Linked DNA regions of Homo sapiens: region 2 is linked to region 1. The links come from fine-mapping of genetic effects on gene expression. Tissue or cell type: aorta. Region 1 holds a variant in brackets; the other region holds the start of a gene. All regions are shown on one strand. Distances are from middle to middle. Region 1 holds the start of C1QTNF8 (C1q and TNF related 8). Region 2 holds the start of SSTR5 (somatostatin receptor 5).

The links.
Region 2: SSTR5 starts here. The variant in region 1 is fine-mapped to the expression of SSTR5 in aorta (GTEx, PIP above 0.99).

Annotation. Positions count from the first base shown.
Region 1 is chr16:1,093,036-1,098,390 of GRCh38, forward strand. It overlaps C1QTNF8 (C1q and TNF related 8), which reads right to left and starts at 3,209. Exons shown (of 5, transcript NM_207419.3): 1 at 3,121-3,209; 2 at 2,580-2,753; 3 at 1,680-1,898; 4 at 462-1,016. The coding sequence starts at 1,887. The coding sequence ends at 466. The variant C/T (reference allele first, on the strand shown) is at 3,193.
Region 2 is chr16:1,069,818-1,075,172 of GRCh38, forward strand. It overlaps SSTR5 (somatostatin receptor 5), which reads left to right and starts at 2,930. Exons shown (of 2, transcript NM_001172560.3): 1 at 2,930-3,005. The region is part of intron 2 of SSTR5-AS1 (SSTR5 antisense RNA 1); the gene reads right to left. RefSeq lists enhancers at 1-721, 1,690-2,431.

The sequences.
Region 1 (5,355 bases):
CACACAGTCGGCGCTCAACCAATCACTGCACACAGTCGGCGCTCAACCAATCACAGCACACAGTCGGCGCTCAACCAATCCCTGCACACAGTCGGTGCTCAACAAATCACAGCACACAGTCGGCGCTCAATCAATCCCTGCACACAGTCGGCGCTCAACCAATCACAGCACACAGTCGGCGCTCAACCAATCACAGCACACAGTCGGCGCTCAACCAATCCCTGCACACAGTCGGCGCTCAACAAATCACTGCACACAGTCGGCGCTCAACCAATCCCTGCACACAGTCAGCGCTCAACAAATCACTGCACACAGTCGGCGCTGAAGCTCCGCTGCCCGCCCACCCCACCACACCCACACCCACCCACACACACACACCCACACCCACCCCCACACACACACACACAGACACACACACACACGCGCGCGCGCGCCCGGTGCTCAGCCGCGGGGCCCCTCACCCGGCTACAGCTCGGCGGCCGGCTTGACCAGGTGGCCGCTGAAGGTGATGTAGAGGTCTCCGTGCTCGCCGTAGATGGCGTTGTCCCGGTCGCGCTGGAACATGCGCACCCAGACGGCGTCGCCCGCCGCCAGCAGCAGCATCAGGCTCTGGGCCTGCATGACGCTGCGCTCGCTGGGCTGCGCGTAGAGCACGGCCGCGGGCCGCCGGTTCAGCATGATGTGCAGGTAGGTCTCCTTGTAGTTCCAGGTGTGCACGTTGAGGCTGAGGAAGTAGACGCCGGGCACCGTGCAGAGGAAGCGGCCCGCGGCCAGGTCGAAGGCGCCGTCCAGGTTCACCAGCTCCGTGTCGAAGGGCACCGCCTGGAAGTGGTCGGAGCTGTGCAGGCCCTCGCGCCGGCCCACGGAGAAGGCGGCGTAGGCACGTCGGCACGCGGCGCCCGGCGGCCCCACCTGCCCCTTCTGGCCTCTGCGGCCCTGCAGGCCCCGGGCGCCTGGCGGCCCCTCTTTCCCGCTCCTGCCGGCCCGACCTCGGACGCCGGCCTCACCCTTCTCACCTGCAGGGGACAAACGAAAGCCACGGGTCGGGGCCGGGCTGGGCAGGCCTCCCCCATTCCAGCACCCAGGCCAGGGGCTGGGGCTCAAGGGTCACTGTAAGGACACACTCTTTGCAAGTGACGGCCCCTCTCCCAGTCTCCGCGTCCACGTCTGTAAGATGGGGAGAAGCCGTTCTCCAAAGGTGTGGCTAGACCAAGGCCTGTGGCAAGGCCGTCCCCACCGAGAGGGTGGGGACATGGGTGGTCAGGGCCAGCTACGGTCTGCGTTGGGTGTTAAAGAATGAGAAGGCTGGGAAGGTCCTACCCAAGCCTAACCTTAGTACAGCCTTCGGGACAGCGCAGCCGTGTCAAGGGGTCTCAGAGCAAGCGGGCTGCCCAGGCTCCCTTCCCAAGGGGCTGCTACTTTGGGGATCTCAGGAACCCTGGCCCCCTTCCCCAGGATCCTCAGCACCCCACTTTGGTTCATGGGTCCCTCCCCAAGCCAGGCTTCTTCCTGCTTGCGGGGGGAGCCCAGGGGTCCCTGTGCAGGGAGCGCTGCCAGGGCAGACACTGGTGCTCAGCGTGCCCCTCCCGCCCCTCCTCCCAAGCCCCAGGTGCTCCCCACTCCCTGTGGGCTGTTGGGTCCTGGTGGGGGAGCATGCAGGCAGCACCCACGGGCCTCACCTTTGAGGATTTCGATGTCTATAGTGGGCCGTACTCGAGGCAGCCCCCTCCACAGGTCCCCCCTCCACAGGTCCCTGTCACTCACCCGGGCATAGGGTCCAGGGGGCCAGGCCGGGCGGCAGCAGTGCACACAGGGCCTCCTGGGCAGCCCGGGCCAGGCCCCCACGGGCAGCAGCAGTGCTAGGAGCAGCAGGGCGGGGGCTGCCATCTTGGCCAGGGCTGGGGGAGAGGAAAGAGGGGAGGGACTGAGAAGGAGGTGCCCCAGCTGGAGCCCCCAGACCCTACGGCAGCCCGGCCCTGCCCCCGTTGGGAATACAGCCAGTGGAGGCGGGAGCTTCTGCCTGGGCACGGACGGTCCTGGCCCAGTGGGTGAGGCCAAGGCCGAGGCTCAGGGGCTGCTACACTCTGGGCCGCACCAGGCACCCTGCACACCTGGAGTCGGGGAGTCCTGGTCCCCAAAGCTGGGGCCCCCACACCCGGCAGATGGTGGGGAAGCCGTTGTGGGACACAGAGGTCTCTGAGACAGCCCTCTAAACTCAGGAGCGGGTAGCCGCCCAAGGCCCCACCCACTGTGGCTGGGCAGAGCCCTGGGGCGTGGTGGCTGGTCTGCTCCAGGGAAAGGCCCCCCAAGGCTGGCCTGGGGTGGGGGGCCCTGCACAGTGCACAGAGGCACCGTCTCAGCCAGGCCCAGAGAGCCTCTCGTCCGGAGCCCCCAGGGCAGGGCCTGCAGGGGCCTCGGGAGGCCACTCCTCTGCCTCCCCCAGACTAGGGAAGGATGGTCCCACCTTGGTGCCGAGGGGAAGCCAGAGCCAACCTGGGTCCCCCTGAGCAAGGTAGGCCCCCTCCCAACAGCAGCTGCCCCAACAAGCCTGGCCCCCCTGCCAGGTGGGCCTTGCCTACCCCACTCCCCTCACAGCCACATCTGGAGGCTTGGCCAGGAGTGTCTTCCGCTAGGGCAGGTGCACGGGTCGGGATCCTCAATATTCCCTGAAGATGGGCTCTGCTGGACAAAGATCTAGGCTGCCTCCTTCAGGAAGCCCTCTGGGATTGTAGCACAGGGCAAGGTCCTTCCTCCTGCAGTGGGTCATTCCAGGTGGGTGGAATGTCTCTGGCAGTTGAGACACCCTCTGCCTGCCTCCCCATGAGCTCAGCAGACCCTGACTCACCCCCTGGCCCCACTGGACACCACAAGAGCCCCCCTGGACTCCTCCGGCAGAGGGAGCCTGGCAGGAGTGGGTGTGTGCATGCACGGAGGCCTGCAGGAGCCCCCACGGAGTTCCCGGCCGTCCCAGCCCCTGGCCCTGCCTGGCAGACAATCAGGGCTGGATCATGCTCCGCTGGGGTTCAGGGGGAGCCCGACCTGCCCAGGGCGGCTGTGAAGACTCCCACAACCAGCCCCAGGCCCTGTGCTTCCTGTTACCGTCTCAGGGATGCTCCCTGCCTGGCCGGCCGTCTGTGTTACTGTCCCAGCAACCCAGCCGTCAAAGAGCCCTTTCATGCCCGCCTGGGCGCC[C/T]GTGGCTTCCTCTGGGCTGTCCAAGAGCAACAGGCCGAGAGGCCAGCTCCGCCGAGCCCTGGACAGGATCCTGGCAGGGCCCCTGTGTCCACTGCGAAGCCTGCCTCGCGGCCCCAGGGTCCTCCTGCCAGCCCCGTGCCCATGAGCGGGGCTGGGGCCCGGCGTCTTGGCCGGCTGGGTTGGGGGATGGTGCCGTGGGCACGCAGCTCTCCTCCATCGGGAAACCAAGCCTGCTGCCCGCCTGGGGTGCGGCGCCCTGAGGAGAAGCAGGCAGATGGAAGCTGTGGCTGGGCGGGCCCGGCGGGGGGGCTGTAGGCCGAGGCCCGTGTTCGGGGCCCAGACCAGGGCCTCCATGCTGCACGGGGCCCCCATGGCCACCAAGCCACCGGGTGACGCACAGCCCTCATGCTGCTGGCGGGGAAGCCAGGCTGGATGGAGCCCAGGAGCGCAGCCTCCCCAGGCTCCGTGGGGTCTCTTCATTCCCTCATGACACCCCTGGGGAGGCCCCGCACCAGCCCCGCCTCTCAGCGGATAAGGACTGGGCCGGACGACTCGCGGGAATGACTTCTAGGCCTCCCAGGCCTCAGCGGGCGGGGGCTCCATTCTCTGTGGGCCCCAGGCCAAGCCCACACAGCACCTTGGCCTTGTCCCGCTCCGACCCTGGGCCTCTGGACACGGACACGCGGCCATTCCCCACAGGTCCTTCCTCCACAAGCCGGCCCCTGTTGTGGGAGGTGCTGGACGTGGCAGGAGAATTGTGGCGGCCTTGCCTGAAAGCAGGCTGTGGGCGGGGAGGGGCCCCGAGCTGGCTCAGTCCCCTCGGCAGATTTGTGTGCGACCTGGGGTCCCGCTCTCCCCGCAGCCCCTCAGCTTGGCCTGGCCCTCAGCACCCCCATGCTAAAGACCGAGGAGGAAAGGAGGACAGGAGGTGAGGGGAGACCAAGGGGTCCCCCCTGTGGGAGCTTCGTGTGCCAGGCTGCGGGCAACGGGCTGGGGAGGGCTGTGGTGGGGACCGCACCAGCTGTAGCCGGTTCCAGGCTCCCCCCTCCAGGTGGCCCTGGGCGGTGACAGCTCACCCTTGGCAGCGGCACCCACTAGGCCCAGCGGCCCCCTCTGGGGACAGCCATCTTCACCCTGTTGGCTGTGGTGACACAGATGGGGTGTGAAGACCTGAGCGCCTGTGACTATGGCACCTGCATCCGACCGAGCCGGCTCAGCGTGGCTGTGCCCTGGGCGGCGAGAACACAGCTCTGCAGATGTGTCCCAGTGGGACAGTGTGCTCCTGGGGCTTGCAGAGAAAGACGGGCGGACGCCCACACTCTGCTGTGCCCTGGGTCTGAGCCTCAGCCTCCCATGCCCGTGAAATGGGCACCCATGGAGCTCAGAAGTATCCAGAGCGTCCCTGAGGCCTAGACACAGGGAACCCTGTGCCCCTCAGTGCCCCCCGACGCCAGCAGAACTGCCCCCTAAAAAGAGAGGCATGTTCCTGACAGTCCCCCTTGAGGGCAGGTCCCAGAGCCTCCCCACGCACAGAGCAGGGTGGAGGGAGGCTGAGGGGTGGGTGAACGGCCCGGGAAGGGTGCCTTTGGGTCCCTTGGGTTCGGGTGGCCCGGGATGACCCGTCCTGGGGAGAGTCCGTCTGGGCAGGCGGCTGGCAGGGCCGATGCCTGAACTATGTGGCACAGAAGCTGCAGGCCAGGCCTGAGTGGGGTGGGCAGGGAGCGCGGGGGGTGACTCAGTGGGGCAGGACAGCATGTCTCCTGGACAGAAATAGCCCTGGCCAGGCATGACCGCGGCATTGCCGTGGCGACGGGGGAGCGGCTGCTGCCGGGTGCCCTGGGGCCCACCCCCCACAGACACCCAGCAGCGTCCCAGGCGGGCCCCGGGAGGGCCGCCCCCTCTCCGTGCTGCGGGGCGCTTGTGCCAGTGAGGTGCGGGTGGAGGTGCCAGGCACTGGGGGAGGGGGCCTCAGCAAGACCCCCGACTCCACCCCTCTCTCCCAGCCTTCAGCTCCCTGCTGTACAGACTGGGGGCTCCTGGACGCCTGGGCTCACTCAGCCCCCGAGAGGAGTGGATGATCTTTCTAAAGGAAGGCGTTTGGGGTCCACCCAGAAAGTGGGGAGGGCTCCATCCCTGGGTTTCAGGATTTTACTACTAGACTGC
Region 2 (5,355 bases), 23 kb before region 1:
CATTTTAACAGAGTGCCCACTGAAGCTCGAGACCACGGCCAGGAGGGTCAGCCAGGGCCCCAGGGGCGGGACTCAGGCCCCTGCAGAAGGCCCCATCCTTGAAACCCTTTGAGGGTCTCCCTGTTTCTGTCTGGACCCCGGGCCACGCTCTGCCCTTGGCAGCTGCAGCCTGCATCTCACTCCAGACGCCTTGGTGGGAAGCCCCTGCTGCCGGGTCCCCAGGCTGGAATCCGCAGGATGTCAGGGCACCCTGTGCTCTTGGGGACGCTCTGCGGTAGCTCCCTGAGGCTCTCAGACACCAGGACACCCTCCCAGCCCAGTCCCAGCAACACATGCCGGCAGCGCCTGCGCCAGTGTTTTCTTCTCCTGTCGGGAGGCTGGTGACCCGCTGTGCTGCCCCGGTGGGGGGCTGATCTCTGACCTCCTGTCTGGCGGGCTGTGCTGCACCAGCCAGGGCCGGGAGGTGCACGTGGACCCGTGTTTATTGGAATCCTGCTGTGATCAGACCCGGGGGCGACGTCGAGACCCACCAGGCCCCGTGGCCTCCTGTGAACATCTGCAGGCTGTTGGGGGCAGCGGTCGACGGAACAAGTGTGGGGCGGCCCGGGCTTCCCGGAGGAAGCGTTGCTTGAGCTGCCAGGGGAGTTACCTGCAGAAAGGGAGGTGGGGTGCACCAGGCAGGGGGGCAGCCAGGGCAAACGCCTGATGCTCAGAGGGTGACAGTGGGCAGCGGGGCCCTTTGGAGGAGCGGAGGGAGGGCCCTGTTGGCTGCAGGGCAGAGTGCCCCACACTCCTCCTGGCCGCCACCCCCAGGGCCCAGCCCAGTCTGGGGACTAAGACGAGAGGCCTCTGGGGTGTTCCAGGTGAGCTGGAGTCAGCCCCTGTTGCTTTTGAATAATTACAGGGGAGTCAGCCCAGTGACCAAGCCTCTGCCTGGTGGGGGAGGGGCACGGGCTTTGTGTCCGGGAGCTGCTGTCCTCAGCCTCAGGAGAGGGGGTGTCACGGGCCGTGGGACAGGTCACAGTTAGGGTGGGGTCCCTGGAGAGGGGTCTGAGGACCGTCCCTGCGGAGTCCATCCAGCCACCATCGGTTGCCATGGCTACTGGCAGCCCCTAATCCTCACGGTGCTGGGTTTGACCTCTGCAGCGTCCCAGGCGGGCATGACCTCATTTGATCCTCCTGGGGTGGGTGGGACTGAGGCCAGGGGACTCCTGCCCAGAACTCAGGGTGGCCGATGTGGGGAGGGGCACTGTGGGGCCGACAGGTCCCCTCTCTGGCCATCAGGCCCCCAGGAGGGCCCAGGTGCTTGGAGGTGGGGGGTGTCCCAGCTTGATGTTGGGGATGTGAGTAGATCCAGCGCCCACCCACCCGCAGGGCTGAGCTCCCACTGGGCGCTGGGCCGTGACTCGCACACCGGACCCTGCACCCCTGGGGCACCCAGTGATTCCAGAACAGTGGGACCCCAGAGGCTTCTCAGGGAGCCCCAGAACATGACAGATGGGGGCCCAGGTGCGAGGCAGTGGGAGCTGGAGGAACACAGCCAGGGGCTGAGGCGAGAACCATGAGGATGGTGGGCAGAGGCTGAGGGGAGGGGCAGCAGATGGAGATGGGGGAGGCGTTAGGGGTCACAAAGGGGGTTCTCAGAGGATCTGCCTTGGGAAGCCACTGCTGTGGGAGGGTGGGAGGGATACAGCCCAGGTACCTCCAGAGAGGATGGAAAGGCTTATGGGGCGGATTCTGGGCAGGGGACCTGGGACCAGCCTGCAGCCTCCCCTGAGGGCCTGGCCATGGCCGCAGGCTGGGGAGGAGGGGAGGGGACCTTGGGGCCAGGTGCCATGGTCCTCTAAGCACTCTTGCTCGATGGTAAACATAACACGCGCTGCTTGCAGAACATGTGGAAACACTGAAACGCTTAAAGGAGAGAACATGGTCCCGGTACCCGGCCTTCAAGGGAGCTGCTGGCGCCTGTTCAACAGGAGCCGACCCCACCTGTGAACAGACGGCAGGCGGCTGCTCCCATGTCCCCTCAGAGAGGGGCCCTCCGAGTTCTGCTGTCACCTGGGGGCGCCTCACTTCATTCAGCCAGTGGCGGGGCTCCCTGGGTCGGCACAGAGTCAGGGGAGGGGGCTGGGGGACCTCCTGGTGGGAAAATGTCCGGTGATCCCCAGCCTCCGCGCTCAGCGGGAGGAGGCGCTCGGTCCCGCTTCTTACAACCAGCGGCGCTCACGGCGGGCCCGGGGATCAGCATCCCGGGAGCTTCTCAGGAATGCAGATTCCCAGGCCCTCACTGCCTGGGGAGTCGGGGGCCCAGCTCGAGGCCCAGGAATCTGCTTTGAGGACCCAGGTGACTCTGCTGCCTGCCTGAGAACCCCACCTTAGGTGAGGGACTAAGGTGTACCCATGGATTCATTTCAGGGGAAATAAAAAGAACAACTTAGCAGGTAGTCTATGCTTAAATATGTGTAGGATCCACAAATAAGGCATGGATAAAACCCGAGTGGAGTGTCCTGGAAATCCCACGACCACGGACCCCCCTCGCTGGGGCTGCCTGCCGCCCCCACCAGCCTCCACACACCCACTTATCTCCACAACCCCAGCCCACCCCTCAGAGACGTCTGCAGAGCCCCTGACCCTCTCCCCTTGAACAAGGACCCTCCACCCTCTTCAGACTCTCGACGAGGGACCCCCTGGACTCCTGCTGGCGGCAGGACCCCCACCCCAAGCTGGGGTCTACCACAGAGCGGACAGCAAGAAAATAGGGTGGGGGCGCAGGCGATCATGGGGTCACTGCCAGTGGGACCAGGGCTGTGGGCGAGTGCGCCAGGGTTCCCGGAGGCCAGACGTGGGACCCGGGAGTCGAGCAGGTGAAGCGGCCCTGCCCCGCCCCCACCAGGCACTGCCCCGCCCCCGCCCCGCCCCGCCCCCTCCCAGCCGGCGCCCGGGAGCCCGGAGCCAGTGCCGCGCGGACATCGGGGCTCCCCCGTTCAGAGGGCGCCGCCGCCCAGGTGAGTGCCGCCCGCCCCTGTCCCCCTCCCGCGCGGGCACCCCCTGCCCTCGGCTGTTATCCCCACTGGGGGTTTCACCCTGTGTGCGCAGCCCCGGCCCGGGGTCCCGCCGTGCGCCCCCAGCCCGCTGCACGCACTGTCCCCCACGCGCCCTCCGCACACCCGCGGGGCTCTCCTGCCGCCGCCGGGGGTCCCTCCCCTCCCGTTCCATCCACTCCCAGCAGCTCCATCCCTCCCATCTCCTGCCCCCACCCCACAACTCACCATCTGCAGGCACCCCGTGTGCCAGGGTCAGCCCAGAAGCCACAGGGGACCCAGATGGCCCCACTCTGCCCACCGCGCCGCTCCCGGCCTCTCCTCCCCACGACGGGGGCCACAGCGGGGCTGGCTCCTGGAGCTGGAGGAGGGTGGGTAAGGCTGGGGAGGGCTCGGAGCCTGGGGCTGGGGGCCGGAAGTGGCACTCAGGCCACAGGGAACCACTGGGCCACGGAAGGAGGGTCCCAGGGTGCCCGTGGCACCCAGCGAGGGGAGGATCCGCAATTTGGGTGCCGGGGGAGGCAACTGGTGCCTGCGCGCAGCTGGGTCGGTGAGCTCCTGGAAGGCAGCAGGCAGAGGCCAGCACCCAGGGGCCCTGTGACCTGGCACTCACAGATGGGTTCCCTGAAACCCAAGACTGGGGAGGCTGGGGTGCCACCCCGCCCGCTGCGAACAGAGCCCCCTCCTGTCCAAGGCACCGCGTGTACCTGGAATCCTCCTGGCGTCTTCACCCTCTCCAGAATAGAGAACACGCCACTGGGGTGTGTGCCCTTGGCCCTCCTCCCCCACCCCAGACCCACCCACGTGCCCGACCCGCTGTCCCCAGCCTGCCAGCCTGCCTGGGGCCCCCTCAAGGGCAAGAGAGCGGAGTGCATGGTGACAGAAGTTGGGGATGGTTCCAGTGAGGCTGAGCCCTTTCTGAAGGCAGTGATTCTGGACTATGTAGGTGGGGACTGCCAGAGCCTCCTGGGCAGAAACTGGTCAACAGCACCAAGGACAGGCGCCTGGCGTTGATTTCCAGAGCAAGACCCAGCGAGGCTGTCAGGAGGTGCCTGGTGTGGAGGGTGCCCCGAGAAGCGTTCGCGGAGCACGCGGGACCCCTGCTGCTGCTGCTCCAGGCTGGCCCACACCTGCCTCAGTTTCCCTCTCCTGGGGAGGGTATGTGCCCCTGGCCACAGGCTGCCGCAGGGACAGGTGGCGTGTATGTGGGGGACAGGCAGGGGTGCCATTGGCTGCACTCACAGAGCTGGACCCCAAGGGGGCAGTGGCCTGCCACCAGGCCACCCTTACGACAGAGGAAACAGGTCAGAACGCTTGTCCTGGGAGCACAGGCCTGGCTCCGGGGCCTTTGGAGGGGCTGGGGCCTGTAGTCTTAGCTAGGGTGTCCCCCGACGTTTGCCCCTGCCCAGCACACAATGGAGGAGCCCGGGTGGGTCTGCAGCCTCTCCAGGGTGCGGCGTGGGCCCCGGCCGTGTGAGCCGCTGCCTCCCCGAGCAGCAGGTTCCGCAGCCCCTCCAAGCTGCAGCCGCATCGCTGCCCCCCATGAAGGAGCCGACTCCCCGACCTCGTGCTGGGTTAGCCTGGAAGGAGTTGGCAGGGTGCAGGCTAGACCTCCACCCAGTCATGGAGGACTTGGTGCTGAGGCCCCGCCTCTGGTCCCAGGCCCCTGTGAAGACTGCCCCCTTCTCCGAGGAGCCCAGCGGCCTCCTGGATGCTGGGGAAATGCTGGGCTGCTTAGGGCAGCTTGTGGGAGCAATCGTTGAGCGCCCAGTGTATGCCAGCCCCGCTGTGGTCCCCGTCGTGGGGAGGTGAGGCCGGGAGCGGTGCTGTGGGCAGACTGGGGCCATCTGGGTCCCCTGTGGCTTCTGGGCTGACCCTGGCACACCGGGCACCTGCAGATGGTGAGTTGTGGGGTGGGGGCAGGAGATGGGAGGGATGGATGCTGCTGGGAGTGGATGCACGCAGCACCCTGCACACAGAAGCTCACTCAGTTTCATCAGCTCAGCAACCCTACAGTTTGCAGGAGTTGCCTATCCCAGAAGCTGGGCTCAGAGAAGCCCGTGACTTACCCCAGACCACGCAGCCCGTGTGGGGAGTGGTCAGGGGCCGGGGTCTCTCCCAGTGCCATGTCAGGCTGAGCAGATCCCTTCGTGGCCGAGGGCTCGGGATCAGAAAGCTCCTACTGCTGGCTCCCCCTCCAGTGAATCCCCCACCCACAAGGGACAGGGCCACCGGGACAATTCCCCGTGAGTGCGTAATTTTATGATTCAGAGGATACTGCTTCCAAATAACGGCTCTTGCAGAATTATGTTCC